2 linked regions of the Homo sapiens genome follow. The protein of the gene in region 2 purifies or fractionates together with the protein of the main gene of each other region. This does not show direct contact. Each region holds a gene or a part of one and is shown on either strand. Other genes may lie near its edges.

Region 1 (15,647 bases), on a different chromosome or scaffold from region 2:
GGCTTACCCTTCCTTTAATTGGTTATCCTGCAAGTTTTTTCCAAACTCTTGCTCCCTGGGTGATCTCAGCCTCTCCCGTAGCCTCAGTTCTCTCCTGAGATAGAGGCTTACTTGCGGACGGATGTGGATGTATGTTCTGTGTGCAGCTGTATACCCCTCCCCCAGTTCTCCCCAGCCTTCCATGACCTCCTCTTTACCTGTTAGGAAGTTTTCCCTGTCTCTCTCGGTGTTTATCACCTGTGTCATTGCTTGCTCAATTGTCTGGACTATTTTTAAGTCTTTTTATCTTTCTGTGTCCAGAGCCGAGCATGTTCTAAGTATTCAATGTGTATTTATTGAATTAATGAATGGATAATAGTTTTCTCCCTTTTAATTAAATAAATTTTATTAAAAGTAACTTTGAGCCAAAACCTATAAATGGTTTTTAGGTTACATTTAACTTCACAATTAACTTAAAATTTTTTTTTTATTTTTATGGGTACATAGTAGGTGTATACGTTTGTGGGGTACATGAGATATTTTCATACGGGCATACAATGCGTAATAATCACATCAGGGTAAATGGGATATCCGTCACCTCAAGCATTCATCTTTTTTGTATGTTGTGAACATTCTAATTATGCTCTTAGTTACTTTAAAATGTACACTAAATTATTGAACATGTAAAGTTTGTTACATGTCTTTCGTGCCTGACTTATTTCACTTAACATGTCCTCCAGTTCCATCCCTACTGTTGCGAATGACAGGATCGCATTCTTTTTTTTGGCTGAATAGTAGTCCATAATTAATTTTTTCTTGGTGAGTTTTGAAAATATTTTGCCTCCCTTAATACTTGTGTTTTCCAATTTTATTTCAGAAAAGATTTAGGTCATGCTCAAATGGTGGTTGATGAGCTCTTTTCCTCTCACTCTGATTTGGATTCTGATTCTGAACTAGACAGGGCAGTTACCCAAATCAGTGTAGACCTGATGGATGACTACCCAGCATCTGACCCACGGTGGGCTGAGTCTGTCCCTGAGGGTAAGAATGTTTCAATTATGGAACGGTGTGTTTTGAACATATTCTGGTTTCTTTATTAGAAGCATCTCTTAAAGCATATTTTTTAGCTTCTCAAACAATTTAATATTAATTCAATATTTTTTAAAATATTGTGACCTTCCTTTTTTTTTTTTTTTTTGAGACAGAGCAAGGCTCTGTCACCCAGGCTGGAGTGCAGTGGCGCGATCTTGGCTCACTGCAAGCTCCACCTCCCAGGTTCACGCCATTCTCCTGCCTCAGCCTCCCGAGTAGCTGGGACTACAGGTGCCCGCCACCATGGCTGGCTAATTTTTTTGTATTTTTGGTAGAGACGGGGTTTCACTGTGTTAGCCAGGTTGGTCTTGATCTCCTGACCTCGTGATCCACCCACCTCGGCCTCCCAAAGTGCTGGGATTACAGGTGTGAGCCACCAGGCCCGGCCAGGTAACCTTCCTTATAGTATGTTTTGAAAAAGGGTCAGAACAGGTCTAGATAACAGAATGGAAACTAAAGGAACATTGGAGCAAATCCTAATTGTTCTATCCAAGGCAGATTAATTGCCTTACTTAGCTTTCCTGGCTTTTATTTCTAAAAGAAAATTGGTTGCATAGGTAGACAGTTGGCACTTACCTGCCCCCCAATCCCAGTTTTTTTTTTTGTTTTTTTTTTTTGGAAACAGGGTCTCCCTTACTTTGTCACCCAGACTGGAATGCAGTGGCACGATCTCAGCTAACTGCAACCTCCACCTCCTGGGTTCAAGTGATACTCCCACCTCAGCCTCCTGAGTAGCTGAGATTACAGGTGTGCACCACCATGCCCAGCTAATTTTTGTATTTTTAGTAGAGATGTAGTTTTACCATGTTGGCCAGGCTGGTCTTGAACTCCTGACCTCAGGTGGTCCACCCGCTTTGATCTCCCAAAGTGCTGGGATTTCAGGTGTAAGCCACCACACCCAGCCTACTTACCCCCAAATTAAATGATAATTTTGGCATAATCAGTATATTTGACTAATAGAAATGATCCATTCCCCTAAGAGCAGCAGTGATCAAATGTCAATATGTAGAAGTGGACAAGACATGTCTAGCTGCCTGTCCCAGGTGACTGCCCCTCTTACTCTTACTTCCACCTCAGAAACTCGAGGGGAACTCTGGGGTCCCCAGATACCAGGGAACTGTCTCAAACATGTTTCTCTCCCTAATTATCCTACTTCTTAGCAAGTTCACTAAGCTCCATTAGAGATTTAGGAAGAAAACATGAGAGCTCATCTCCTTTCTTTGACTGTTTTTGTTGGCACTGTCAAGCTTAAATTGTTACAAATGATTAAACTAAAAACGTATTTTGCATTTTGAATAAATACAGTATGAATTGTATCAAACCTCCAAAATTTACTCTTAAATTTTTAAAACTCCTGAGTAACGTTATAAACAACTGTATTGTAAGGTTGATATTTTTATTTTGTATAGACTTTTTTTTTTTTTCCCTTTTCTTTTTTGAGACCGAGTCTCGCTCTGTCGCCAGGCTGGAATGCAGTGGCGCAATCTCGGCTCACTGCAACTTCCACCTCCCCGGGTTCAAGCAATTCTCTTGCCTCAGCCTCCTGAGTAGCTGGGACTACAGGCATGCGCCACCACGCTCAGCTAATTTTTGTATTTTTAGTAGAGATCGGGTTTCACCATGTTTGCCAGGATGGTCTCGATCTCTTGACCTCGTGATCTGCCCACCTCGACCTCCCAAAGTGCTCGGATTACAGGTGTGAGCCACCGTGCCTAGCCTTAGCTTTTTATTTTAATAGCAGTTAGCCACTGATATTAAAATAGTATAGTTGTAAAACCACTATGTTCTAAGTTTTATCACTGTGTTTTAACAGAAGCACCTGGGTTCAGCAATACGTCACTGATTATCCTTCACCAGCTAGAAGACAAGATGAAAGCTCACTCTTTTCTTATGGACTTTATTCATCAAGTAAGAGCGCAGGGTGCTGGGCACAGGGCTCTGCCTTTGGCAGTCTCTCCAACACAGTGGGAAGTCTCTTCTCTCTATTTTGAGGTGTTTCATTGGGTGGGGCATGACTGGTGTTTTCCATTGTCTCTGCTGATTTAAAAGTCCGTAATTCCAGGGCTGTGTACAAGCCTGTTAATCCAGGTATAAGAAGCAGGACTTCATTCAGATTTCCCGTGTGCGTTTGTGTAAGAACTTAAGTTTTCATGAGTCGATTTTGTATTTGACAGATTTTTATGTATGACTTTTAATTTTGAGGTGCCATTAGAATCAAATCCTCATTGAAAGTATTCCTTTTCTTTTTTTGGGTAAAGGTTATCCTCACATATATTGTGCCTAAATTAGAAAATGTTTTGCTACTGGACAGAATTGTTACATAAATTCACTCATTCTTGTCTCGTCAATAAAAGTGGCTTGCAGACATATTACGTAGCCAAATGAATGAATTTCAACCTGCTTGGGGTTTTGTTTGTTTGTTTTATTTATTTATTTATTTATTTATTGAGACAGGGCACTCTGTTGCCCAGTCTGGAGTGTAGTGGCACAGTCTTGGCTCACTGCAGCCTTGACCTCCTAGGCTCAAGCAGTCCTCTCACAGCCTCCTGGGTAGCTGGGACTACAGGTTTGTGCCACCATGCCCATATAATTTTTTTTCAGTTTTTGTAGAGACAGAATCTTACTACGTTGCCCAGGCTGGTCTCGAACTCCTGGGCTCAAGAAATCACTGCACTTCAGCCTCCCAAGGTGCTGAGGTTACAGGCATGAGCTACCAGGCCCAGTCTCTTCCCTGATTGTTTTTCAAACTCAGTAGTGCCTACTCACTACCACACCCGGCTAATTTTTTATGTTAAGGAGATTCTAGTGAGTGCTGTCCAATCCATTGCTTTCTGTGATCATGGGAATGTTCTCCTAGTGTGATGTCTAGTGGGACAGCTGCTGGCCACATGTGACCTGAACAGTTGAAATGTGACTAGCAACTGAAGAACTGAATTTTAACTTACTTAAATAGCCACTGTGGACAGTGGCTACCTTATTGGACAGTGCAGCACTAGATAATTTCAGAAATGACTTGATTGTTCCTAATCCCACATTCTTTTTCAATTTTGTGCATGGTTTATCTCCTGTCTACTCTTTTATTTTCTTGGCAAGAAAACTCCAATCATTCATTGAGTCTCTCTTTTTTTGTTATTGTTATTTTAGGTGGGATATGGATTAATGAGGAAAAAACATATTTTCTCCCGATATGGTCGTTTAATTAGCCAAGTGTATCAGTTAACTATTACTGCCATATAAACCACCCCAAAACACAGTGGCTTAAAACAATTCTGTGGGTTAATCAGGCAGTTCTTCTGTTGGTTTCACCCGGAATCACTCGACCTGCATTTAGGATGCACTGAGCTGGAGGGTCTGCAAGCCTCTTCCCGCTTTCTGGCAGTTGGTTCCAACTGTCAACAGAGGCTATGTGGTTCTCCTCCATTTAGTCGCTCATCCTGCTCTGGGCTGGACTGGCTTCCTGTGGTCTTAACAGATGAACATAGAAGCTGTAGGCTTCTTAAGGGCTCATCTCAGATGTCACATAATGTTACTTCCAGTAAAGTGACATTGGTCAAAGCAAGTCACAAGGACAGCTGGGATGAAAAATTAAAGAATTTATTATACCTCTTTTTTTGTATGTGTGTGACAGGGTTTCACTCCCATCGCCCAGGCTGGAGTACAGTGGCGCAATCTCAGCTCACTGCAACCTTTGCCTCCTGGGCTCAAGTGATTCTCCTGCCCCAGCCTCCCCAGTAGCTGGGACTACAGGCGCATGGTGCTGAACCTGGCTAATTTTGTGTATTTTTTGTGGAGAACGGGTTTTGCCATATTGCCCAGGCTAGTTTCGAACTCTTAAGCTCAAGTGATCGCCTGCCTCTGCCTCCCAAAGTGCTGCGATTACAGGTGTGAGCCACTGTGCCCAGTGTGATTGTACCTCTCGATGGGAAGAGTGGCAAAGTCATTCTCATTGGAAGAGGATATGCATACTGGGCCGGCAGGACCTTGCCCTGACCTGATTCGCCACACTAAAAGCATGGATTTATCAGAGGCCCGAAAGCCATGAGAGCATGAGCACTCTTGTCTCAGCCTTCCTGGGTTCCAGAGAACCCTCACGAAGTTCCACGGCTGCTGGTAGCAGTATCTGTCCTAAGGCAATGTCTAGCTAGTTCTGAAAACCCCATTCCAGCCATGCCTTTTATGTTTCTATTTCCTTTAATATTTAGAGCTCATTTAACTAATGAGGAAGAATTTATGTTGATAATTAGGAAAAAGGTATAACTAGATACTAAGGAAAGTTTTTTTTGTGTGTTTTTTGTTTGGATACAGGGTCTCTGTTGCCCAAGGTGGAGTGCAGTGGCACGATCGCAGCTCACTGCAGGCTTGACCTCCTGGGCTCAAGCAATCTTCTCACCACTGCCTCCCCAATAGATGGGACCACAGGCACTCACTACCACGCCCGGCTAATTTTTTTATTTGCTGTAGAGACAGGGTCTCATAATGTTGCCCAGGCTGGTCTCAAATTCCTGGCCTCAAGTGATCCTCTTGCCTAGGCTTCCCAAAGTGCTGGGATTACAAGCCTGAGCCACTGCACCCAGCCCTAGGGAATATTTCTGAATACAGAGAAATATTCCTTTTCTCCTTGAGCCAAACTTGGCATCTGCAGGGCCATATCCTCATTCTGAAGGGGGTGGAAGTAACACCAACACTTCAGAACAGTACCCTTGCCTCTAGTTTTCTGATGTTGAGGGAAGCCTCTGTGTTCATACATTGTGTTTCCATACCTTACAGAAGCAGGGAGGTAATCTGATCATATTCACTGTGTGACTAGAATGATTGTACATATATATATATATATATATGTATATTTAGTTTTTTAATTTTTTTGAGACAGGGTCTCACTCTGTCACCCAGGCTGGAGTGCAGTGGCATGATCATAGCTCACTGTAGCTACAGCCTGTCCGGGCTCAGGTGATCTTCCCATCTCAGCCTCCCAAGTAGCTGGGACTACAGGCATGTGCCACCAAATCAGCTACTTTTTGTATTTTTTGTACACATTACCCAGGTGATCGCCTGCTTCTGCCTCCCAAAGTGCTGGGATTACAGGTGTGAGCCACTGTGCCTGGCCTAGAATAGTTTTAATCTAGAGCCATTGCTTCACTGTCAGTGCTGCAATCAAAGCAAAGTAAAGCAGGCAATTGGGATGACCTTGCATGAAAACTCCACCTAGATTTTTTTTTTTTTTTTTTTTGAGACGGAGTCTCGCTCTGTCGCCCAGGCTGGAGTGCAGTGGCGCAATCTCTGCTCACTGCAAGCTCCGCTTCCCTGGTTCATGCCATTCTCCTGCCTCAGCCTCCCAAGTAGCTGGGACTACAGGCGCCTGCCACCACGCCCGGCTAATTTTTTGTATTTTTAGTAGAGACGGGGTTTCACTGTTTCAGCCAGGATGGTCTCGATCTCCTGAACTCGTGATCCGCCCGCCTCGGCCTCCCAAAGTGCTGGGATTACAGGCATGAGCCATCACGCCTGGCCGATTACACCTAAAATATTTTTGAGGGAACCAGGAAATAAATTCAAGTCAGGAAAGACCATGTAACTCTTATTTTAAAATAATAAGGTGAACAGGTTAAATACATTAGGATTCAGTGAATTATTAACCAGTCATTAAAAATAAGAATATCTAAATGTGTTATAAAAAATAAGATACTATCAAAACAAGGTACAGAACAATATATACAGTGTGACCCCTTTTGTGTTATAAAAAGATATCTCCTAGCATGTAAATACTACAAAAGCATATAGAAAATGAAGGATAAGAAAATCAGGTCACTTATTAACGAAAGAGAATTATACTTAAAATGTGAAAAAGTATTCATTATTTATGCCTGTCTTTTGGCTCTTTCCTAGTTCAGGTTATTGTAATGTCATATGCAATGAGAAAGCTTAGGAAAACCCCTAGAAGATCATAACACAGGACAGATGGGCACCAAGCAACTCAGTAGAAGATGCAAAGGGTTAGAGACACCCCCACCCTCCCAGCAGCATTAGGGGTATGGAAATCAGTCCTTGAAGGTGGAGGTTGCTGAGTTTCTGATTTCTGAAAGTCTGGAACCTAGGGGAGTTAATTGATACAGCTAGTAAAGGGCAGTGTGAAGCCAGGTGCAGTGGTTCACACCTGTAATTCCAGTGCTTTGAGAGGCCGAGTCAGTAGGCTCGCTTGTGGCCAGGAGATCTTGTGGCCAAGATCAGCCTGGGCAACATAGTGAGACCCCATCTCTACAAAAATAAAGTGTAAAAATTATCCTGTTGTGGTGGCGTGCTGCTTGGGAGGCTGAGGTGGAAGATGGCTTGAGCTGAGGGTTTAAGGTTAGGGTGACCTGTGATTGTGATTGTACCACTGCACTCCAGCCTGGGCGACAGAGCAAAACCCTGTCTCAAAAAAGACGAAAAGAGCAGTGTGACTGTTTTGATAACCATAAACAATAATTTGGGAAACATGATATGCAGAGACAGTAGTAGTGGACAGAAGCCCTGGAGTGACCCTGTTCTTAGAACAGGAATATCTACATTTCCTTGTGGGTGTTAATGGCCTGGCTGAAGTGTCTGTGTGTTAGAAACAGTTAAAACAAGAGACAGCTGGAGGGACTTGCTGGGGGAAAGCTGGGGCCAGTGACTGCCCAGGGTGCTTCTGGGGAAAATACAGCTATGGTATTTTGCATGTTACCATAATTGCTTTCTGAGAATATGTGTTTGCCTTTTTGCAAGGTTGGCTTATTTGGACGTCTAGGCAGTTTTCCAGTTAGAGGGACACCGATGGCCACTCGACTGTTGCTCTGTGAGCATGCCGAAAAGCTGTCAGCCGCCATTGTTCTCAAGAACCACCACTCCCGGCTTTCTGACCTTGTCAACACAGCCATATTGATTGCTTTGAACAAGAGGGAGTATGAAATCCCATCCAACCTGACTCCTGCAGATGTCTTTTTCAGGGAGGTAAGATGAGTCCTCTTTCATGTGGCTTTGTAGAACTGTGCCATTTAGTGATCATGCCCTAGGCAGGAAAGACGGTGAGGACGAGTTAAATCACAAAAGATCTCACTGAAATTTTAAATTGGACTCCAGATTTTCTGGCTAGAGTGTCACTCAGAAGTCTCATTGATCAGTTACCTGTAAAGAAGAGTTTGCAAAGTTGACTAAGAAGTGCTCCCTGTTTACTTTTTTCCCCCAATAACTGTCTCCAAGTACCTATTTGCTTTGCATGCTGATCTTCTTTTTTTTTTTTTTTGAGATGGAGTCTCACTCTGTTGCCCGGGTTCCAGTGATTCTCCTACCTCAGCCTCCCGAGTAGCTGGGATTACAGGTGCTAGCCACCACCCCGGCTAATTTTCATATTTTTAGTAGAGATGGGGTTTGATGTCGAACTCCTGACCTCAGGTGATCCACTCGCCTCAGCCTCCCAAAGTGCTGGGATTACAGGCGTGAGCTACTGCATCCATCCTGATCTTCTCCTTTGTCTCTCTCGATCTACTCTTTTTTCTGGGGGCAGGGGGCACTAAGTCTTGCTCTGTTGCCAGGCTGGAGTGCAACAGTGCAATGTCGGCTCACTGCAACCTCTGCCTCCTGGCTTCAAGCAATTCTCCTGCCTCAGCCTCCCAAGTAGCTGGGACTACAGGCATGTGCCACCATGCCCAGCTAATTTTTGTATTTTTAGTAGAGACCTGGTTTCACCCTTGTTGGCCAGGCAGATCTACTCTTGACTCTGCCACAGCAAGGTGGCCTTCCTGAATGGGCTCCCTTGCCCTCCGGCTTCTGCCAGGTCAGATGAATGTGAGGCCCTGCCATAAGGCCAGAAGTTGGAGTAGTTATTCTGCCAGCTTTCTTCCTTGCCTGTGCGCACTTTACATTGGCTGTGCCCCTCTGTCAGGGACTGTGCCTCCTGTCCAACTGCTTTCTCTGTGTTTCCAGTAGCTGCCCCCTCCTTGTGCCTCTTCAGGCCTGAGGTTGATAATGCCTCATCCTAGGGTGCTGCCCCATCCCTTTTTGGACCCCTTAATCTTGCCCACACCTTTGCAAACAGTACCTTCACTGAACTCCTCAGCTACCTCCTAGGATCCTGTTGCTACACCTTGCTTGTAGAATCAGATTTATTTTCAGAGAAAAAGTAAAGTCTGCTACAAACTTCAAAGACAGAAATGGTTAAGATGCTGGGCAGCCAGTGGCAGCTGGACATTGTGGAAATAGTGACGCAGTCCTCGTGCTTTTGTGAAGCTTCACAGCCTGATGAGGCAGCAAGGCAGACTTCGCTGTCTCCCTTTAAAGGTGTGACATTAGAACTTAGACCTGTTGTCTTAACTGAGACTGCAGAACTATCTGGTTTTAGAAACAGGGCCAGCTCTTCCCTGAGCTCTGTGAAATTTGGAATTCCTTATGCATTTGAGGAACTTCAAACTCTATTTGGTGTCTCAAATTTTGCTTCCTTCCTCCTATAGCCTAGCTGTATTCTAACATGTAGCACACTGTGCCGACAAGTCTCTTTTTCTTAATGTTTGATGTACTGTAACCTAAGTTTGATGTACTATAACCTAAATTCAGTCTTCCTGTTGATTCCATAAATGTGTTTAGTGTGAATTCTTTGCTTTTATGCATTTGGGTTAGTTCCTGGGGAATGGAAGGAAAAGCACTTTGTTATGTTTTGTTTTTAATCTAGACAGTATGCCAGAAATCTGAAAGAAAAACAAATCACCTCAAGTTTCATGATCTAACAAATCAAGTTGTTGTCATTTTTGTGTCCTTTTTGGTCTTTATTCATATATAATTTTATATGATAAGACAATTTTTTAAAATTAATTACAGACTACTTGTAAGAACTGAGCAAGAGCCTGGTTCATTATTCTGCATTTGGATCAAAGGGCAAAGTATAAGTGTCAATTTAGTGTATGTACATGTTTCAGTTAGCTGAATTATTGGAGAAGGGTCTGGAAATTATCAGTTGGATACATATAGAATAATATTTTAGGAATATGATACAGCAAAACTAAAAATGTGATTGGCTCCTCAAAAGAATGTTCCATATGAAAAATGGTAATGTTTAGGACTGTTCCTGTCACTATTTATCTTCATTTCTCATGATGTTCGTTGGTCTTTAGCTTCTCTGGGGTGTAGTTATAAAGGTTTTCTCCCGTGTCATAATGATCATGAAAAGAGAATACAATAGCTATATGCATATAGTAGTTTTTCTTTCTTTTTACCTGTCCTTCCACTTGGGGGTGACAAGTTACCTGTCTAAGGAGTATTTGTGTTTTGGGACGAGCTGGTTAACCAAAATCAATCTCTGATTGGTGGGCCATATAGAACGATATTTTGACTTGGCAGCCCTGATAGAAAGTAAAACAATACAGAGCTGCCTGAGGGTGCGCTCTCCACTTTGACTCTGTCTCCAGTTTGGGAAGGCCTTGTACCTCCCAGGGCTCTGGAAAAGCAGAGCTCACTGCTTAAGGAACAGACTATGTTGACACGGCATATGAGCAATATTTGAAATCACTGAATATATACATGATAAGAGAATTTAACAAGTGTTTTGGCATTTTATGTGCTTTTATGTTATTTTCTGTCTTTTATATTATATATGCTTTCCTTTTTTTTTTTTTTTGAGACTGAGTCTTGCTCTGTCGCCAGGCTGGAGTGCAGTGACACAATCTCTGCTCACCGCAGCCTCGGCCTCCTTGGTTCAAGCAATTCTCCTGCCTCAGCCTCCCAAGTAGCCGGGACTCCAGGTGCACGCCACGACGCCCAGCTAATTTTTGTATTTTTAGTGGAGACAGGGTTTCACCATGTTTTCCAGGATGGTCTTGATCTCTTGACCTTGTGATCCACCCACCTCCAAAGTGCTGGGATTGCAGGCATGAGCCACCGCACCCGGCCATTATATAGGCTTTCATTGTGTTTTTCATGTTAACAATGTAAAATATTCTTACACTTAAGCTTATAAATTAAATGTGCTAAAGATTTCTTGCCTGGGCTGTTAGGATGCCTTTGGCTAACATCAGAAATGCAAAAGGAAGAACAAGGTTTGCAAAAGGGAGGGATTTTGTTTGGGTCATGTTTTATCTGTGCCTATATAACTTGTTCCTTCAGCCAGTTTGTGAGGTCCTTGAGGGCAGCTAATCTGATTTTTCTTTCCTCTTATCTCTGAGTGTCCATTGCTATGCAAACTCTAAATAATGGGGGGAAAGCTTAAGTGCAGACTTGAACTTGAAACAGGAGTTTCAGTGCCTGATGGTATTTTTGCACTGTTATCTCCATGTATTAATTAATGACAAAGGAAGAGTTAGAAGTTATGTATTTAGTTCATTCTCTTATGTTGCTTACTTCTGTTCTACAAATGTTTCTGTTATGTCTGAAGAAGGGGAATTCCTCAAAGAAAGAAATTAGCAAGTTCACTTTTTGAGGTCATTATTTTAGTCTATTAGTTCATTAGTTTGGGGTATTACATTGTAAAGTGATGTCATCTGTAACCTAGTGCTATTTAAAGATGCACTGAGCAGAGTAGCTATAATAAAAAATATCATCGCTTAAAAATCTCAGTAACAATCCAGAATTTGCCTGTTTATAAGACTTATTTGGGCACTCTGACTTTTAAAAGTTAGGAGATGTGACTTTTCTTGATTTTTGAATTTATTTTTACCATCAACTGCCAATAAATTTTCCTCCATCTATAGGTCTGAGGATATGGCTTAATGAGTAAAACTCACTGGGTAGTTGTTACCCATCACCATAATTTTTGTTGTAAGTAGTTTACTTCTGTGTATTCTCTCAGGTATCCCAAGTAGATACCATCTGTGAGTGCTTACTGGAGCATGAGGAGCAAGTCTTGAGGGATGCACCTATGGATTCCATTGAATGGGCTGAAGTGGTGATCAATGTGAACAATATTCTCAAGGTACAAAAATATAGTAAAGGCTTCAGCAAATCAAAGCCCAGGGCATGGATAGACAAGGAACTGGTTTCCATGTTCCTACTCTGTATTGCCGATAATGTATAAGGTTGTAGACATTTGTTAATCCCAAAAAAGTTAGAAAAATGTCATTTTATTATTAATCAGCTAATGAGTATTTTGAATGTTAGCCTGGTGCCTATTAATAAATTTCTATAATCTTGAGTTTCTATTTGGTAGAATAATAAACCTTTCATTTGGGAAGATGTGTTTGTATCTTTGCAATTTTTTAGTTGGTTTTTTTTCTGAGAGAAGGTCTCACTGTCACCCAAGCTGGAGTGCAGTGGCACCATCATAGCTCACTGTAACCTTGAACTCTGGGCTCACGACTTCCTCCTGCCTCAACCTCCAAGAGTGTTGGGATTACAGAACTGAGACACCATGCCTGATTGCAAACGTATTGTTAATGTAACTGTCTAAATATTTCTCATTTCTATTTTTTTAATTACTCAAAACCTTGCTACTTTTACTATTGACTAAAACGTTCCATTTAATTTTAGCTAGTGGACTTGTAGTAATGATTTTCCTACTTTGCCAAATAATTTTCCTACTATTATTTGCCAAAACTGAAGTTAAATTATGGAGTAAAACAAATTTCAAAAGCAGAAAGAACCAAAAAGTAATCATGCAGATCTGTGCTGACTTTTTTCTCTCATTTTCTTTTCTTTTCTTTTTTTTTTTTTTTTTGTGAGACATGGTCTCACTCCATTGCCCAGGCTGGGTTTATAGTGGCTTGATTATAGCTCACTGCAGCCTCCACCTCCTGGGCTCAAGCAGTCCTCCTGCCTCAGTCTCCCAAGTAGCTGGGACGGTAGGTGCACGCCACGATGCCCAGGTAATTTTAAAAATTTTTTGTACAGATGGGGTCTCACTATGTTGTCAGGCTAGGAGCAATCCTCCTACCTCAGCCTCCCAAAGCACTGGGATTACAGGTGTGAGCCAACATTCCTGGCCCCTGAGTATTTTTTCTTACTAATTTACTTTGCTGTCTTAAATTATCTTCAGAAATACTGTGATCCATCACCTTTTGCATGTGATAACACATTAACTTTTTTTCCAGGATATGCTGCAGGCTGCTAGTCATTATCGCCAAAATAGAAACTCTTTGTATAGAAGAGAAGAATCACTAGAAAAAGAACCTGAATATGTTCCATGGACGGGTAATATACTGATTTATTAACAGTTGTTCAAAATATATTTCTAATGACCCATCATTTTTAGAAGTTGTGTTATTCCCCTAGCGTAGGTTTGTAAGTGAAATGAAAAAGTGCCGTCTCCAAAATGAGCAGCTCTTGTCAAAATCACTTTATTCGTCCCTTGCTCTTATTTATCGATCTCTCTATAATTTATGTATTCAACTGGTACTTATGCATTTACTAGGTTTTAGTTCAAATAGTTATTCATAGAAGCAGTCCTGGCCCCGGAGGTATGGACTATATTTTATGTTGATTTAATACAAGAAAGTAAGTGGAGTAGCATTAAAGGAATTTAGAAGGAAGAAGAGTCATGTTTACCTGGCTTTGCTGAGGAAATCTCCTTGGAGAAGATGGGATTCAAGCAGGGCATTGACAGGTATCACCTGAATCCCTGTTCAATGTAATTTTCCAGCAGTGATGAAGAGGCATAATTTTTATGCTATTAGTCTTTCCTTTAGCCATCACTAGATCCCTTACTTTAACCATATTATTTTGTGTAATTTCACAGCAACAAGTGGTCCTGGTGGCATCCGAACGGTAATAATACGCCAGCATGAGATTGTCCTGAAGGTGGCTTATCCACAGGCAGACAGCAACCTCCGAAACATCGTGACCGAGCAGCTGGTAGCCCTGATCGATTGCTTCCTGGATGGTTATGTTTCTCAGCTTAAGTCTGTGGATAAATCCAGTAATCGGGAAAGATATGACAATCTGGAGATGGAATACCTACAGAAAAGATCAGATCTCTTATCTCCTCTTCGTAAGTTCATGATACTTGGCAAGAGTTTTAAATTTGCTGAATGGATGAAAGGGTTGAATAGTTAATTCAGTATATTCAGTGTGGTAGTGTTAATCCAACTGTAATAAAGAACTTAAAGCAAATATGCACAGCTTTCTGTGCTCATTTATTCAACTTTTTTTCCAGTACTATCTAGGTATAAGTACCATAGATGATACTGAAGACAATTAATAAATACATAAACAAACAACATGTGGAGACTACCCTTAAAGAGCTTAGCATCACAGACCTTTACGTGAATAACTGGATTGCAAAGTAGAGCCTGGTGAGGGCTGCTTGAGGGGTACAGATAAGATATTATGGCTGTTTGGCAAAGGACACATTATACTCCAGGCTAGGACTGGGAAGAGTTTGCTTTACTCTTACATGAAGGAAGAGAATAGCGTTTTGGGGAGGCAGTGATGAAACAAGGGTCTGAATTTGCATCTTTTTTTTTTGTTGAGACAGAGCGTCACTCTCTCGCCCAGGCTGTAGTGCAGTGGTATAATCTCAGCTCACTGCAACCTCCATCTCCCGGGTTCAAACAATTCTCCTGCCTCAGCCTCCCAGGTAGCTGGGATTACAGGCGTGTGCCACCACAACTGGCTAATTTTGTATTTTTGGTAGGGATGGGGTTTCACCATATTGGCCTGGCGGGACTCGAACTCCTGACCTCAGGTGATCCACCCGCCTCAGCCTCCCAAAGTGCTGGGATTACAGGTGTGAGCCACCGCACCTGGCCTGAATTTGCATCTTTAAGAAATTGATGTGAATTGTGAAACTAAGTGCCAGTAAGTGGGAAGGTTTCCATTCCATTAATGATTGTTGGTTTATAATAGGAATAAAGATAAAATTTCAAGTAACATTTTTTATTACAGATTTTAAGTTTTGCTAACAGGATTTTTTCCCATCTTTTCTCATTCCCACAGTTTCACTAGGCCAGTACCTGTGGGCTGCTTCTCTAGCAGAGAAATACTGTGACTTTGATATATTGGTACAAATGTGTGAGCAGACTGACAACCAGAGCCGACTCCAGCGCTACATGACCCAGTTTGCTGATCAGGTGATGAGTGTTGGGTGTGTGGCCACTGAGTCCTTTAGTTGCCTTTTCTTGAAATGGCTTTGCCATTTCAAATCTGTAATCAGGGCTTTTGGAATATGATACGATCTTTTTGTAGTTAACTTTGATGAGAAGATACTAATTTGTATGTCGCGTTTCTTTGTAAATTTTGTCCAGTAGCGAGATCACAGTTCACGACAGCCTCAACCTCCTGGGTCCAATCACTTCTCCCACCTCACCCCCTCCCACACCTCCTGCTTTCCAGTAGATGGGACCACAGGAGCTCGCCACCATGCCTGGCTAATTTTGTTCATTTTTCAGTAGAGACAAAGTCTCGCTATGTTGTCCAGGCTGGTCTCAAACTCCTGGGCTCAAGCGATCCTCCTGCTTCAGCCTCCCAAAGTGCTGGGATAACAGGCATGAGCCATCGCCTGACCACACAATTCTTTATATATAAATATTACTGAAAGATTCTTTGACCTTTGGAAAATATAACTTTCATTTCTGTTTATATATTTTCTAGTTATTATAAAAGTACTTAGGTACATGAATATTGGTAAAGTTCTTAAAAATTGT
Region 2 (15,647 bases):
GGTTTACGTCTGTTCGCGGCACCAGGCAAGGGGAGGAGACTGAGCTGGCTTTTGATTGGACAGCGGGAAGACATGGGGCGGGAAGAAGCCCGGTGATTGGTGGGGACAGCGCGTTCCTGGATTTGAAGCGAGGAAGCCGCGCGCCCTGCGAGTCCGGAGGAGGAAATGGAGCTCTGCGCTGCGTGGGACCCGGGGGACGGCTCCCGTTGGCGCCGCCTTCAAGGTCTTGGCGAATTTGAAAATAATGCTTACTTTATTCAGTTTGGGTCTCCAGGGCACCGCCAGTCACTCTATGCGCAAAGAAGTATCCCCCGCCAACAAATCCCCCCCGATAGGTTTCGTCCTTCCGTGGGCAGATGCAGACCTTTCCTGTTGGTAGGCGCTGAAAGGCGTCAGGTTTCACCTTCAATCAGCTAATTCCTCGGGATCCAAGTTTCATGACATTTCGCCACATCTAGTCGCCTCTTTGTGACAGAGTAGGCTTTGTCTCGATTGCTTCCTACTTTTCTCCATCCTTCTTAGGCCACAAAACCCATCACCGCCATCTGCTCGGCACAGGCCCTTAACTACTTCACTGAGACCATGCCTTTCACTCAAAATGTATCTCAGTCTTTTTCAGTAAGGTCCCTTATCTCAAAATTTATTCCATATAGTCACAGAGGGAAAAGAGTCCCTCTTTTCCAAAGCTAACTCCTTAACTTCGTTCAAGTTACTGAAAGATGTCCGGCGCACCTTGGAGGAAAGAAGAGGGAAAACGCAAAGTTTAGAAGTCCCTAGACCTGAGGTTACTTGGTGGGGAAAGACGTCTGTTTACTTGACCACTTTCTACCTCCTGCAAACATGGCTCACCTGTCATTCTTGGATATCCTCTCCACTGGTTTCCTTCTCTCTGCCTACAAAAATGCAGCACCTCTCTACCCAAACACACACACCACACACCCATACACCACACACACCACTCACACCACAAACCACACACACCCACATATGCACCACACACACGTGTGTGACACGTATACACACATCCATACACAACACACACCCACATACACATCACCCACACACCACACACACCCTCCACACACAAACACCACTCAAACCACACACCCACACACACCCCTTCCTTGATTCTGTTTCATCACCTAATGACCATTCTTGTTTCCTTCCCTTAATGGTCTCCACTTTTTTTTCCATAGAGGAAGCCAGGCTTCCACTTTTTACACCTTATTTTGACGCATTTCATGGTGTCTAGCTGGGTCCTTAAAACTTTATCAGGAATAGACTCCTAATTGTCAAACTCAGTGATATCTCCACAGTTCGACACCTCTTCTTGGAACCCTGCAGCCTTGGTATTTGCAAAGAGTAATTACCTTTATTCTACCTTTGTCCACACTCAGTGAGCAAAGATAAATGCAGAAAATCTCAAGATTTTCTGAATCCCAAAAAAGTAAGCCAAATGCTCAGCCCTAGAGCTGACCTCTCTTAACCTCTTTTTCTACAAAGCGGTCACACATTGGAGGTGAACTGCTTAAATGTGTCTACAGGTTCCGGACTGTCACTCACACCAGATCCTTGTTAATAAATGTCCTTCCTCCATAAATATCCTCAAGTCACCACAGCACTCCCCACAACACTCAGTAACCTGATAGGACTCTATTAACAGAGATCTCTGATTCAGAGTCTCGGCAGCAGGAGAGCCTGGACTCTGACGCCAGGCTGCCTGGATCTGAATCCTGGCTCTACCTCCCTCTTCCAAACTGTGTAGCCTTGGGCAAGTAGCTTTAACCAGCCGGTTTCCTTGTCTGTAAAGTGGGGATAATTAAAGCGCTTGCCTCAGAGGCTTACTGTGAGGATTTAAAGCTACTTCTGTAAGGTATCTAGAAAAATAATGGCCCATGGAAATACTCAACAAACATTAGCTATTATCTTATACCTCAGTATCTCACCTCACTTGCCAACTGGAAAGGAGGAACAGAACTCCCACTGTGATTTCCAAATCTCTTTAGACACTGAGTAGAGCCTGCAGAGGCCCCATGACCAGGGTGCCTCCCAGGGAATTAGAAGTGAGGCCTATCCAGTTTTAAGTTCAGACATCTCTCAGCTCCCCTTTTACCAACTGCTTAAAGTGGTATGCCTCAGCCAATACTCAAAACCTTCTACAATGTAACCACAAGGTATGATTTCAGGTTAATGTCCCAGTAGTTCCCTAAATGAACCCTACTCTTTCATCAGACTGTTACTTATATCCTATTCCGTAAACACACCCCGGCCCTCTTTTACCTATTGAAATCAGACATCCCTTCCAAATTCTGCCAGCTCAAATAACTTGTCTCTTTTATGCCTACTATACAATTTCTACCATTATTACAAAGCTGAACCCATTACCTTTTGTAAATTCTAAAAATGCCTTCTCCCACGAGTGTAAGTTTGTGTGCAGACTACCTATTTTTCTACATACCCCAGTGTTTGGCACAGTATCTTGCACATGGTAGATGCTCAGGATTCACTAAATTAAACTGGAGAATGGTCTCAATTTCATTATTCCATTCTTACCCAAGGTACCTCTATGTCTGAAAGCTCAAAGACATGGCTTCTTAATTCTGGGTTAGATTCAGCATTAAGACTTCTTGTTTGATCCTCCATAAGGCTACAAGCCTAGCAAGTCATTTAACCAGAGGAAGACCTTTGAGAATTATTTGAAAAAGATATTTACATTGAAATGCTAACTTTAGAGACAAAACACTTTGATTATTAGACAATAAAACTCAAATGTTCCTTAAACTAAAATGAATAGGCTAGGTGAGGTGACTCATGCCTGTAATCCCAGCACTTTGGGAGGCCAAGGTGGGATGATGGATTGAGCCTAGGAGTTTGAGACCAGCCTGGGCAAAAAGTGAGACCCCTCACTAAAAAAAAATTTTAAAAAAATAGCCAGGGCATGGTGGCGTGCACCAGCAGTCCCAGCTACTCAAGAGACTGAGGTGGGGGGATCGCTTGAGCCCGGAAGTTCAAGGCTGCAGTGAGCCATGATCATGCCACTACACTCTAGCCTGGGCAACAGGGTGAGACACTGTCTTAAAAAATAAAAAATAAAATAAAATGAACAGAATCTTTCTATCAGCTCTTAATCCTTTGCATATTAAGAAGTACTAGAGCTATGACACTATTCAAGGAAAGGCGTCTTTGAAAATTAGAATAGTTATAATAACTATGTCACCTATGTGATTACCTGATATTTCATGTAATCTGTTACATGAAATACTGTTCAAAACACCTCTCTCTCTAGCCCTGATAAGAGGTTAAACCCTTGACAATTCCTGACAAAACTGAACCAACAAGCATATTACTAGTTTTAATCATTTTACCACAATTATAATCAAGTACATTCTCATTTTAAAATATTCTAGAAAATATTCTAATGTTGACTAATTAGACTGAAAGTCAACATCTGTCCATTCTAAATGTTAGTAGTCTACATACTGACTTTCTACCTTTTAAATAAATGTAATATTTGCTCACATCTCCTAATTTTTGTTTGGGTTTTTTGTGAGATAGTGAAAGAAGAGTAAGCCTTGGCAATTATCTTAAATAAAATACATTCTGTTTTTATAAGGCAAGAGATTCGTATATTTTTAAATATATTTTATTACATAACCTACTTGGATAATAATTACAAAAGCTTTAAACAGTAATTCCAAGTAGTGAAAGGCAATTTCCTTTAAAAAAAAAAAAAAAAAAAAAAGACCAAAAAGTCCACATTAGGTTTTGCTGCTTTATACACAGGAATGATTTATTTTACATACTAGTCAGTTACAACATTAGCCTGTAAAATGAAATCCATTTTTTAAGGTCTCATAAGGCAGAATAAACTTCATAATATTATGCTTTCACATTAGCCAGTCTGATAAAGCATAAACAACTTAAGACTATGGTAACAGTTTAAAATAAAATTTACAGAACAGGCACTTTGAAGTCAGCTACTGTGTGTAACTTCACAGTTAACGTTACTTGGACATATCTCATTTCATCAAAGGTTATCACCCAGTGAAGCAAATGTTCCTTTGATGCAGACGCACAAACAGATTTAGGTTCCAAACACTGTATTCTGGTTGTAATACATGCAAGACAGACCCTAAGTTAGAAAAATCTTCTGAAAGAAAATGAAAAACAAAAAGCAGCCAGAAATGAAAGCATTTACAAGCACTTGAATAAGGCCTTTCAATGTTAAATCAGTGTTTTAAATCCCTTCATTCTCAGGTAAGGGATTAAGAGGCCGAGAGAGATATCGTCTGCGAGGGTGAGGATACTGGAGGTTGGCAGTGTCAGCATCGCAAGAGTGCTCTACCAGAGGAGGAGGAGGAGGAGGAAGGAGCTGGGCATAACTGGACCATCTCGATCCAGCCCGTGGGGAATCCAGAGGGGTAAAGAAATACCTGAAACAATGAAGACAGGAACAAAACACCAAACAAAACAAAAACAGGAAAAAAAAAACACAAGAAAAAGAGAAAAGTAGTAAATACAAAGAGAACCAAAGAGGAGAAAACACATGCTAGAAAAAAAAAAAAAAGCTTTAGTATATTCATGCCAAAACTAACAGAACATAATAGCACAAATCAAGACCCTTACTCAAATCAAGATTGCTTAAGCAAGTATAGAAACTTGAAAGGAATACAATCTGTTAAACTTAAAATGTTAAAAAATATATATAAATGTTACAAAGAAAAACATTAATTTTATAAATTCAAAACATTTTCTAATCTCTCAGAAACATCTGATGCTATTCTGTACATTTACAGATCTAGTTAAGTTTTTTATCTTAAGCAATGGTTCACTCACAGCAGCAGCAAGCACACATTTTTTTTAGTGCGTACATGATACTGGGAATACACATAGTATGGCTGGCTACTGCAACATGCTTTTGAAGAACTACAAACATTGAACACTTATTTTTCTGCAAAAGCCTTAGAATAGCTACCAAATTTTGATAAGTAAAAGGATTCACAGAATGACTGTGCCCTACTGTTATTCTTCTTCCATCTTGTAACTTACCGATAATACTTACGCATATTAGCAAACTTAAATATTTATAGCTTTGTTATCAAGGTCAGAACTTTACAGGACATGAATTAATTTAAACAGCGAACTAAATTAAGAAAATCTTGAGACATGGAATGCTGACAATTAATTTACATGCACAATTTTAGTAAAATTTTAATGGCTTCTCTTAATAGTGTGTGTCCAAATTTTGATTTGAAGGAAGCTAAGCCATGGAATAAATAACACCATAAAAATACACAAATGTATATAAGAAACATTTATCTCTTTAGTGACTATGAATTAAAAACTTATAAAAAAAGTGTTTCCATCTTAGTCCCAAATTGTAAATGAAACAATACCAAATGCTTAACCTGGCTACAAACTGTACAGTCAAGTTCCTTTCATTTTACTATTACTACTTTATTAATTCACTCCTTTACTAATATTTTTTAAATATTACAAAGAAATGACAGAGTTGTACTGAATATCATGGATAAAGCAAATCTACAAAAAGTAAACAAATCAGCACTCAAAACAATCTTTATAAAAAATATTTATTCAATCTTCAAATTAAAATTATAAAAGTTCATCATTTTAAGCTGTTTTAAGAAAGCAAAAGAAATATGTCTATATTTTCCAAATGAACTAAAGTGGTATTCCCCTCCTCCCAACTACTCAGATAAGAATGGTAACAACCCTTTTAATCTTTAAACCCAAATTAGTTTCAGGAACATTTCAAAAAATTGTTTTGGTGACAATGTCTCAACAGAAAGCCTCTCCGTTTATATTTCAAAAGTTTCAAATAGTGTCAATAAACTGACTAGTACAAAAAATATACACTGTATTTTTAAAGGCCTTTTGGATTGCGTTTAGTAGTAAGCAGGCTGCTGGTGTATCTTGGGAGAGGTCAAACGGCGCTGGGGAAGGGGAAAAGGAGCTCGCTTTCCATTCCTGTGTGCATGCAACAAGCAGCAAAACAGCAAAGTTACTCCAGTTAGCTTGTACTCAGCTGTGCTTTCTGTTAAAGGACATAATACAAATGGAAAAGGGAAAATGCATCACAGATCTAACACAGATGGTTATTGGCACAATAAGAATACAGATCAAAAAATAGAAGCTATTTACAAAAGAAAATATGCAGTACAGGCAGTGACCAAAAACCAGACTTTAAAAAATCAACTCTAATATTATTTGTTTCATGAAATAATCTTTATAATCTGGTATCTTCCACGGTAACCTGAAATTGTTTTGATGCATGTACTTAAAACCTCAAAATCAAAAGCAGAACTTCTTTATGAAAACATAACAATATAAAAATAGTTGAAATTTTAAATACAATTTTCTTCTTTTATATAGGATAACAAGAGGATATAACCACAGGACAATTCATTAGGCTGTGTTTTGACGTTTCCTGAATTCTATTCCAAATTATTCACAAAGGCATATTAAAATAATTTTATCTTACAAATTCACATATTTAAAATTTGAACATGGAAACAGACTCTAGATGACATCAAATATTCCTTATTATGATATACAAGAATGTAACATATGCTAAATATTCTAAAAATCAATCTCGTGTTTTATTATTTCCTCTTATTTCTATTAAAGTTTTAAACACAAAAGCCAAATAACTTAATGTACCCTCTTCTAGAAAGCCTTAAGAAATGTATTTTATTTAAAATTTCAGTTTGACCTAATGCAAAGACCACACTACAAGCACTAAAAAACACTAATGTTCATTTGGACTAAAACTCTCACCATTAAACCAGATAACCTTCCTCTCACTGTTGCGGAAGCAAAGTTGAATCTTAAACCTGTAAACATTTCTACCAATAGACCACTAAAGCTTCAGAATATAATGTAATGACTTCATAACCTACCTGCAAATATTATGACCAAGTAAGCCAAATACATAGCTAACAAAATGAATTCTTAAATGCTAATACAAGCACATGTGAACATTTCCACTCCATCTTATAATCCATGAAATAATCCACCTTAAGTATGGCTACCAGAATGATTTAAAACAAAGATGATTTCCAGTTTTCCCATGAAGCAGCCTACCTGCCAGCAGAAGATCCATTTAATGAATTCTGAAGACTTGGAATAGTTGAACCTAGGGAAGGATTTGAGGTTCCCTGCTGAGAACTCCCATTGACTGGGCTCCCATTACCTTTCAAAATACCAGTACACTTCCAATTGTCCATATAATTAGCTGAAAGGAAAATAATCAAATACATTAACATGATTAATACCAATGCCTAAGGGCACAAATCTGTACCCATGTCCTTAAACTACAATTAAAGAAACGAGACAGAGGCTATGAGCTACATTTCTTTCAGGATAAACATTAAAGACACTTTTTAAATGAAAGACATATTATCTCAGTTTTAACAACTTTTTAGAAGTTTTCAAAGTATCACTAATTTTAAAAATATAAAGCTTTCACCACCCATCTTACAGATACTAGCAAAGACAATTCTCTGAGCTACCACATTATGAAGTTAATATTAAAATCTTCATTATAATATTAAAGTCTTCATTATAATGAATTTCACTTACATATGTATGTAAGGTAATGAAGTTGTCTTCTTAATTATGCAAGTATAAGTTATAAGGGTACCTATCATGTCTTCTGAAATGGATGTAGGTAACAAAACCTTTGGAGCTTCAGTGGCTTATCCAAAATGGCCTTATTAGTTTGAATGAAAAATTGGTCTCTGAAGACAATGAGCCCAAGAAAATCAAGTTAGGCACCCTGCTGGGGAGCATGGCAAGGTGGTCCTGAATAAAGCCTAAAGGCAGAAAAGGACAGCAAAGCCCCTAAAATCAAATTACACTGAGGAAAGGAAGGTCTGGGCTGGTTTTACCAAAGCCCAAAATTGAACATGGGAGGCCCTCAAGCTTACCCAAACTGCACTTTGGGAAACAATAACTGCTAAATGGCAAATAAACAAAGATAGCTATAATTCTGAATGCTAAGTATGGGACACCATTCTATGGTGGTGCACAAATCACAGACATCTCTGCCTAATGGATAATCATCCAAGGAGAAGTGCAGAACCAAGCTACAGAGACCACAGTCAGTGTCAACTGACCAGACCTTCTCACTCAGCCTGGCACTTAGAAGAAACTTACAATCAGGGCCCCCAAGGCTCTTAACTTATGGGAGCTGCAGAGAAGAAGCAGGGAAGATACTGGATTTTCTCCTATTAAGGATGGATTGTCTAAAGCAATTTATTTGATAAAAAAGGAGCCACTACAGTCCTAGCCTGAGTTTGTAGAGCAGTCATGTAAGGTACATATATGACAACTGGTATCTTTTTATTGGAGATATTGCATATTCTGTTGTAATTACTTTAGTTTTGAAAACTGCTCTGTTCCACATAACTTAAAAAACAATTCAGTCATTAACTTCTATGAACTAGGTAAACTGATGTTCAAAATAACATAAATTAATATGACATTAAAAGTAACTGTAAAAGACCATTTTCAAAAAATATTTCAGAGTTTACATTTTAAGTAAAAATTGCAGAGCAGAAATATAAACCAACAATTACCCCTTCACTGAACTCTTACCTTTCCACAATCTTACACACCCATCATCTCCTGAAGATGCTAGCACCGTTCCTGTTATATTCCAACTCACTCGCCAGACCTGAGAATTATGATTATCGAACTGAGCCACTATATGGATTTCAAACTTTGTTGGCCCACCAGAGGAAGTCAGTTCTTTCCTGTTAATAAAAAACATTTTCTGAGGCATTCCAAACAAAGTTTTAAAACATATATATATACACACACATATATATATACACACGTAAAATTCTAAATTAATACAAGTGGTCTCGCCACCACATCACTTTATAATAATGTGCACATCTGCCCAAACCCCACACCTTGGCCCTTGAGCTGGGCCAATGTCATTTTCATTTAACTCGCCAAGACCTGGAGTGATCCCAGCACATAAATGATACTCAGTGACTGTTTCATGGAAGAAAGAAACAACAAAACAGGATGATTTTATTCTCCCACACAAGGCAGAAGAATAAAATAGATGACAATAATTAATTTAAAAAGGCAGGGCAAGGCCAGGTGCAGTTGCTCACACCTGTAATCGCAGCACTTTGGGAGGCCAAGGTGGACAGATCACTTGAGGCCAGGAGTTCAAGACCAGCCTGGCCAACATGGCGAAACCCCATCCCTACTAAAAATACAAAATAAAAAATTAGCCAGGCATGGTGGCGGGCGCCTGTAGTCCCAGCTACTCAGGAGGCTGAGGCATGAGAATTGCTTGAACCTGGGAGGTGGAGGTTGCAGTGAGCCAAGATCAAGCCACTGCCCTCCAGCCTGGGCAACGGAGTGAGACCTTGCCTCAAAAAAAAAAAAAAAAAAAAAAAAAAATGGGCAGGGCAGCAAGTAGGAAAGAATGAAAGAATGGAAAGAAAAGAACTGAAATTCACAATTCAAAATTAAAGTTAAATATGTTATTCACAAGACTGTCTCAATACTAATTTAGTTTTCCCTAAATAGACTGCCACTTGTCATTAAATATTTATAGATTATCAGTTATATTTGGAGAATTGTTAGTTTCAGCCTAAATAAAGCACAGTTAAGAGAATATAAATCTGCTCTTGACTCAATTCCCCTTTCCAAAAAGACATATATTTATATATAAAATGTTCATTAAATAATCCATTCTTCAAAAATGACATTAATTTAAAAGTAACTGTAGGTGTTGGCCGGGCTGGTCTCCAGCTCCTAACCGCGAGTGATCCGCCAGCCTCGGCCTCCCGAGGTGCCGGGATGGCAGACGGAGTTGCATTCACTCAGTGCTCAATGGTGCCCAGGCTGGAGTGCAGTGGCGTGATCTCGGCTCGCTACAACCTCCACCTCCCAGCTGCCTGCCTTGGCCCCCCAAAGTGCCGAGATTGCAGCCTCTGCCCGGCCGCCACCCCGTCTGGGAAGTGAGGAGCGTCTCTGCCTGGCCACCCATCGTCTGGGATGTGAGGAGCCTCTCTGCCTGGCTGCCCAGTCTGGAAAGTGAGGAGCGTCTCTGCCCGGCCGCCATCCCATCTAGGAAGTGAGGAGCGTCTCTGCCCGGCCGCCCATCATCTGAGATGTGGGGAGCATCTCTGCCCGGCCGCCCTGTCTGAGAAGTGAGGAGACCCTCTGCCTGGCAACCGCCCCGTCTGAGAAGTGAGAAGCCCCTCCGCCCGGCAGCCACACCGTCTGAGAAGTGAGGAGCCCCTCCGCCCGGCAGCCACCCCGTCTGGGAAGTGAGGAGCATCTCCGCCCGGCAGCCACCCCGTCCGGGAGGGAGGTGGGGGTCAGCCCCCCGCCCGGCCAGCCGCCCCGTCCGGAAGGGAGGTGGGGGGGGTCAGCCCCCCGCCCGGCCAGCCGCCCCGTCCGGAAGGGAAGTGGGGGGGTCAGCCCCCCGCCCGGCCAGCCGCCCCGTCCGGGAGGTGAGGGGCGCCTCTGCCCGGCCGCCCCTACTGGGAAGTGAGGAGCCCCTCTGCCCGGCCAGCCGCCCCGTCCGGGAGGGAAGTGGGGGGTGTCAGCCCCCCGCCCTGCCAGCCACCCTGTCTGGGAGGTGAGGGGCGCCTCTGCCCGGCCGCCCCTACTGGGAAGAGAGGAGCCCCTCTGCCCGGCCAGCTGCCCCGTCCGGGAGGGAGGTGGGGGGGTCAGCCCCCCGCCCGGCCAGCCGCCCCGTCCGGGAGGGAGGTGGGGGGGTCAGCCCCCCGCCCGGCCAGCCGCCCCGTCCGGGAGGGAGGTTGGGGGATCAGCCCCCCGCCCGGCCAGCCGCCCCGTCCGGGAGGGAGGTTGGGGGGTCAGCCCCCCGCCCGGCCAGCCGCCCCGTCCGGGAGGGAGGTGGGGGGGTCAGCCCCCCGCCCTGCCAGCCGCCCTGTCCGGGAGGTGAGGGGCGCCTCTGCCCGGCCGCCCCTACTGGGAAGTGAGGAGCCCCTCTGCCCGGCCAGCCGCCCCGACCGGGAGGGAGGTGGGGGGGCCAGCCGCCCCGTCCGGGAGGGAGGTGGGGGGGTCAGCCCCCCGCCCGGCCAGCCGCCCCATCCGGGAGGTGAGGGGTGCCTCTGCCCGGCCGCCCCTACTGGGAAGTGAGGAGCCCCTCTGCCCGGACAGCCGCCCTGTCCGGGAGGGAGGTGGGGGGGGGTCAGCCCCCCGCCCGGCCAGCCGCCCCGTCCAGGAGGGAGGTGGGGGGGTCAGCCGCCCGTCCGGGAGGGAGGTGGGGGGGTCAGCCCCGCGCCCGGCCAGCCGCCCCGTCCGGGAGGTGAGGGGCACCTCTGCCCGGCCGCCCCTACTGGGAAGTGAGGAGCCCCTCTGCCCGGCCAGCCGCCCCGTCCGCGAAGGAGGTGGGGGGGTCAGCCCCCCGCCCGGCCAGCCGCCCCATTCGGGAGGTGAGGGGTGCCTCTGCCCGGCCGCCCCTACTGGGAAGTGAGGAGCCCCTCTGCCCGGACAGCCGCCCCGTCCGGGAGGGAGGTGGGGGGGTCAGCCCCCCGCCCGGCCAGCCGCCCCGTCCGGGAGGGAGGTGGGGGGGTCAGCCCCCCGCCCAGCCAGCCACCCCGTCCGGGAGGTGAGGGGCGCCTCTGCCCGGCCGCCCCTACTGGGAAGTGAGGAGCCCCTCTGCCCAGCCACCACCCCGTCTGGGAGGTGTACTCAACAGCTCATTGAGAACAGGCCATGATGACAATGGTGGTTTTGTGGAATAGAAAGCGGGGAAAGGTGGGGAAAAGATTGAGAAATCGGATGGTTGCCGTGTCTGTGTAGAAAGAAGTAGACATGGGAGACTTTTCATTTTGTTCTATACTAAGAAAAATTCTTCTGCCTTGGGATCCTGTTGATCTGTGACCTTACCCCCAACCCTGTGCTCTCTGAAACATGTGCTGTGTCCACTCAGGGTTGAATGGATTAAGGGTGGTGCAAGATGTGCTTTGTTAAACAGATGCTTGAAGGCAGCATGCTCGTTAAGAGTCATCGCCACTCCCTAATCTCAAGTACCCAGGGACACAAACACTGCAGAAGGCCGCAGGGTCCTCTGCCTAGGAAAACCAGAGACCTTTGTTCACTTGTTTATCTGCTGACCTTCCCTCCACTATTGTCCTATGACCCTGCCAAATCCCCCTCTGGGAGAAACACCCAAGAATGATCAATAAAAAAAAAAAGAAAGAAAAAAAAGTAACTGTAAAAGACCATTTTTAAAAAACATTTCAAAGTTTACATTTTTAAGTAAAACTTCCAGAGCAGAAATATAAACCAAATCATAGTTACCTCTACTCTCTCCTCCACAAACAAAGGTAATCAGAAGGCAAGAGTATTTTCAAATTCATAAATGCTTCTAAAACTCACCTCACAGGCTTTAATGTAAAAATTCTCACATCTTTGGTCGCTATTGCTAGAATATGGAAAGATCTTCCCAAATTTGGAGCGAATGCAATATCATGAACAGGATCAGTGACTGTCATAAGAGTTTCAGCTTTTGCATATTTCCTAATGGAAAAACAATTGACATTAACATTTTAGAAATAAAATGTGCAAAAATCCACACATCACTGCATCTCACCTTTTTTTCACACTGCTCACAATCATGTAGTGCTCACCTCTGTAGTGGGCTCAACAGCAGCCCCCAAAAGAATATGTCCAAGTCCTGACCCCCAGACCCTGTGAATGTGACCTTATTCAAAAATAGCGTCTTTGAAAATGTAATTAAGGACCTCAGAATGACATCCGAGATTTAGGGTGGGTCCTAAATCCAACGTGCAGTAAGTATTCTTTAAAAAGAAGAGAAGAAACGCAGAGACAGAGAGGAGGCAGCCATGTGAACACAGAGGCAGAGATTGGAGTTATGCTGCCACAAGCCAAAGAACTCCCGGAGCCAGCAGGAGCTGGACTAGACCAGGAAGGATTCTAGAGGAAGCACAGCCCCAACACCTTGATTTCAGACTTCCGACCTCCAGAACTGTGAGTGAATACATTTCTGTGTTAAGCCACCTGATTTGTGGTAATTTGTTATGGCAGCCCTAGGAAATTAATACAACCTCCCACGTTTCCTCCTTTAATAATGTACATTTAGCTCGAAACGCTTTAATAAAAATTTAATTACAATAAGGTCTTGGCTGGCCACAGTGGCTCACACCTGTAATCCCAGCATTTTGAGAGGCTGAGGTGGGAGAATTGCTTGAACCCAGTAGTTCAAGACCAGCCTGCGCAACACAGCAAGACCCCATCTTTACAAAAAATACAGAAATAGCTGGGCATGGTGGTGCACACCCATTGTCCCAGCTACTCAGGAGGCTGAGGTGGGAGGATGGCTTGAGCCCAGGAGGCGGAGGTTGCAGTGAGCTGAGATTACGCCACTGCACTCCAGCCTGGGCAACACAGTAAGACTCAACTGCAAAAATAAAAAATAAAAAAGGGCTTGATTTATTAGCCACTAACATCTTTCTTAGGAAAAGAGTAACACATTGCCTAAGTATTTGAATGTAAATAAAAAAGTAAAGCTGGTAACAGGAATTGAGGTTTTTTTGAGACAGTTTCACTCTTGTGCTGGAGTGCAATGGCGCAATCTTGGCTCACTGAAACCTCCGCCTCCTGAGTTCAAGTGATTCTCGTGCTTCAGCCTCCTGAGTAGCTGGGATTACAAGCGTGCACCACTACGCCTGGCTAATTTTGTATTTTTAGTAGAGACAGGGTTTCACCATGTTGGTCAGGCTGGTCTTGAACTCCTGACCTCAGGTGATCCACCCGCCTCTGCCTCCCAAAGTGCTAGGATTACAGGTGTGAGCCACTGCGCCCAGCAGGAATTGAGTTAAGTGATAATAAAAGGAAACTATGCAAAGGCTATTTCATCCTTGCAATTCTATTTCTTTATCTATAAATACAGAATAAGAGGATAATGAAGGCAGTGGTAGATCAGAGTTTTCTACTAGGTTCTTCTAAGATTGAATATCCTGGACAGAACGGCAGCACCTAACCCCCTGCATGTAGGAGACTGGGTGGAGACATCTCCCCATCCCACCTTTCTACAGCATTCTTCACTTGACCTTCTTTTCATCCCAACATTCTTCCTAAAATCTCTACCAAGCTGGTACACACCTCAAGGTTCTCTCCTTGATCTTTCTCACCCATCCAATCACCCTAAGCAATCTCATCCACATCCTTGCTTCTACTGTGTGGTCTGCAGCAGCCTGGGAGCTTCTGGGAAATCCAGAATCTCAGCCCCCTCCTGGGGCCTACACAATCAGAATATGCTTTTTTTTTTTTTTTGAGACAGAGTCTGGCTCTGTCGCCCAGGCTGGAGTGCAGTGGTGTGATCTCGGCTCACTGCAAGCTCCGCCTCCCAGGTTCATGCCATTCTCCTGCCTCAGCCTCCGGAGTAGCTGGGACTACAGGGGCCTGCCACCACGCCCGGCCAATGTTTTTTGTTTTTTTTGTATTTTTTAGTAGAGACAGGGTTTCACCATGTTAGCCAGGATGGTCTCGATCTTCTGACCTCGTGATCTGCCCACCTCGGCCTCCCAAAGTGCTGGGATTCAGGCGTGAGCCACTGCGCCCGGCCAGAATATGCATGGTTTCTACACCCATGGTTTCAGTACCTATAAACCAATAATTCCTAAATCTATCCCCTGCAATTCAGGGGATAGATTCTGGCCTTCTACCAAAGGCCAGAAATAGGACAGGTGGAGCTAAGAGCACACATGCTGCAGCCAGAACGTGTTTGAATCCAGGCTGTAACGACCTTCAGCAAGTTCTCCGTAAAGTGGGAGGAACACCCGTACTGTGGCAGAGAGATTCTAAGTGCCCCCATGACCCGCACCTCCTGGTGGTCCCGCCCTTGTGGAGGCTCCTCCCCATGAGTGTGAGTGGGGCCCGTGGCTTGTTTTCTACCCAGGGGACGGAACATGGCAAGGTGGTGGGACAACACCCGTGTGACTACAACACACAAGCCTGTGACGCCTGCCTCATGAGAAGACTCTCCTGCTTTCAGGCCTTGCAGAAGCAGCTGCCATGCTGTGAGGACACAAGGGAGGGTCTCGTGGCAGGAACACGAGTGCTGCCAACAACCAGGTGAGCTCCGAAGTGGAGTCTTTCCCAGTCTGGCCTGACTCTTGACCCACAGACATTGAAATACCGAATCTGTACTGTTTCAGCCACTGAGTGATAATGCTGTCATGCAGCAATAGACAACTAATCTCAGCTATTCTATCCATCTGCCTTTACACATCCCCACCTGGATGTTCCAAACGCACCTCAAACATATGTCTGAAATAAATTGTGCTTACCACATTCACTCCTCTTTGCTCAGTCCCCATCTCAACAAGTGGCACTACCATCAGCTAGGTCAGAAACCAAGACTCACGTGACCTACAGCTGGTGCCTCCTAGACAAGTCTCCCCGGTCCCTCTTCATCCCACGCCACAGTGCATGTCCTCATTCCACATCATAGTGGGCTACTGCATTCATCCCTGAGTTCCTGCTCCCAGTCCACACAGCTGCCAAAGTCATCTCCCTAAAAGGTAAATACAACCTTGTGACTCTACTGGACCCTGCAAAAGTCCAAATGCTGCCAGGATAGAGATCAGACTTGGCAAGCA

What was found.
Region 1: the proteins of SEH1L (region 2) and NUP133 purify together in Homo sapiens (affinity purification with mass spectrometry; 4 studies listed by BioGRID and IntAct, with this or other methods). This does not show direct contact.

Annotation. Positions count from the first base shown.
Region 1 is NC_000001.11:229,462,970-229,478,616, reverse strand, and holds part of NUP133 (nuclear pore complex protein Nup133), read left to right. Parts: intron 1-856; coding exon 857-1,020; intron 1,021-2,884; coding exon 2,885-2,979; intron 2,980-7,812; coding exon 7,813-8,037; intron 8,038-11,860; coding exon 11,861-11,983; intron 11,984-13,097; coding exon 13,098-13,197; intron 13,198-13,741; coding exon 13,742-13,993; intron 13,994-14,940; coding exon 14,941-15,074; intron 15,075-15,647. UniProt on the Homo sapiens protein: Involved in poly(A)+ RNA transport. Involved in nephrogenesis.
Region 2 is NC_000018.10:12,975,648-12,991,294, reverse strand, and holds the end of SEH1L (nucleoporin SEH1), read right to left. Parts: intron 15,563-15,647; exon of another isoform or gene 15,413-15,562; intron 12,544-15,412; coding exon 12,403-12,543; exon of another isoform or gene 12,402-12,402; intron 8,778-12,401; coding exon 8,620-8,777; intron 7,256-8,619; coding exon 7,105-7,255; intron 6,056-7,104; coding exon of another isoform or gene 6,043-6,055; exon of another isoform or gene 4,434-6,042; coding exon 4,238-4,433; 3' UTR 3,764-4,237; downstream 1-3,763. UniProt on the Homo sapiens protein: Component of the Nup107-160 subcomplex of the nuclear pore complex (NPC). The Nup107-160 subcomplex is required for the assembly of a functional NPC.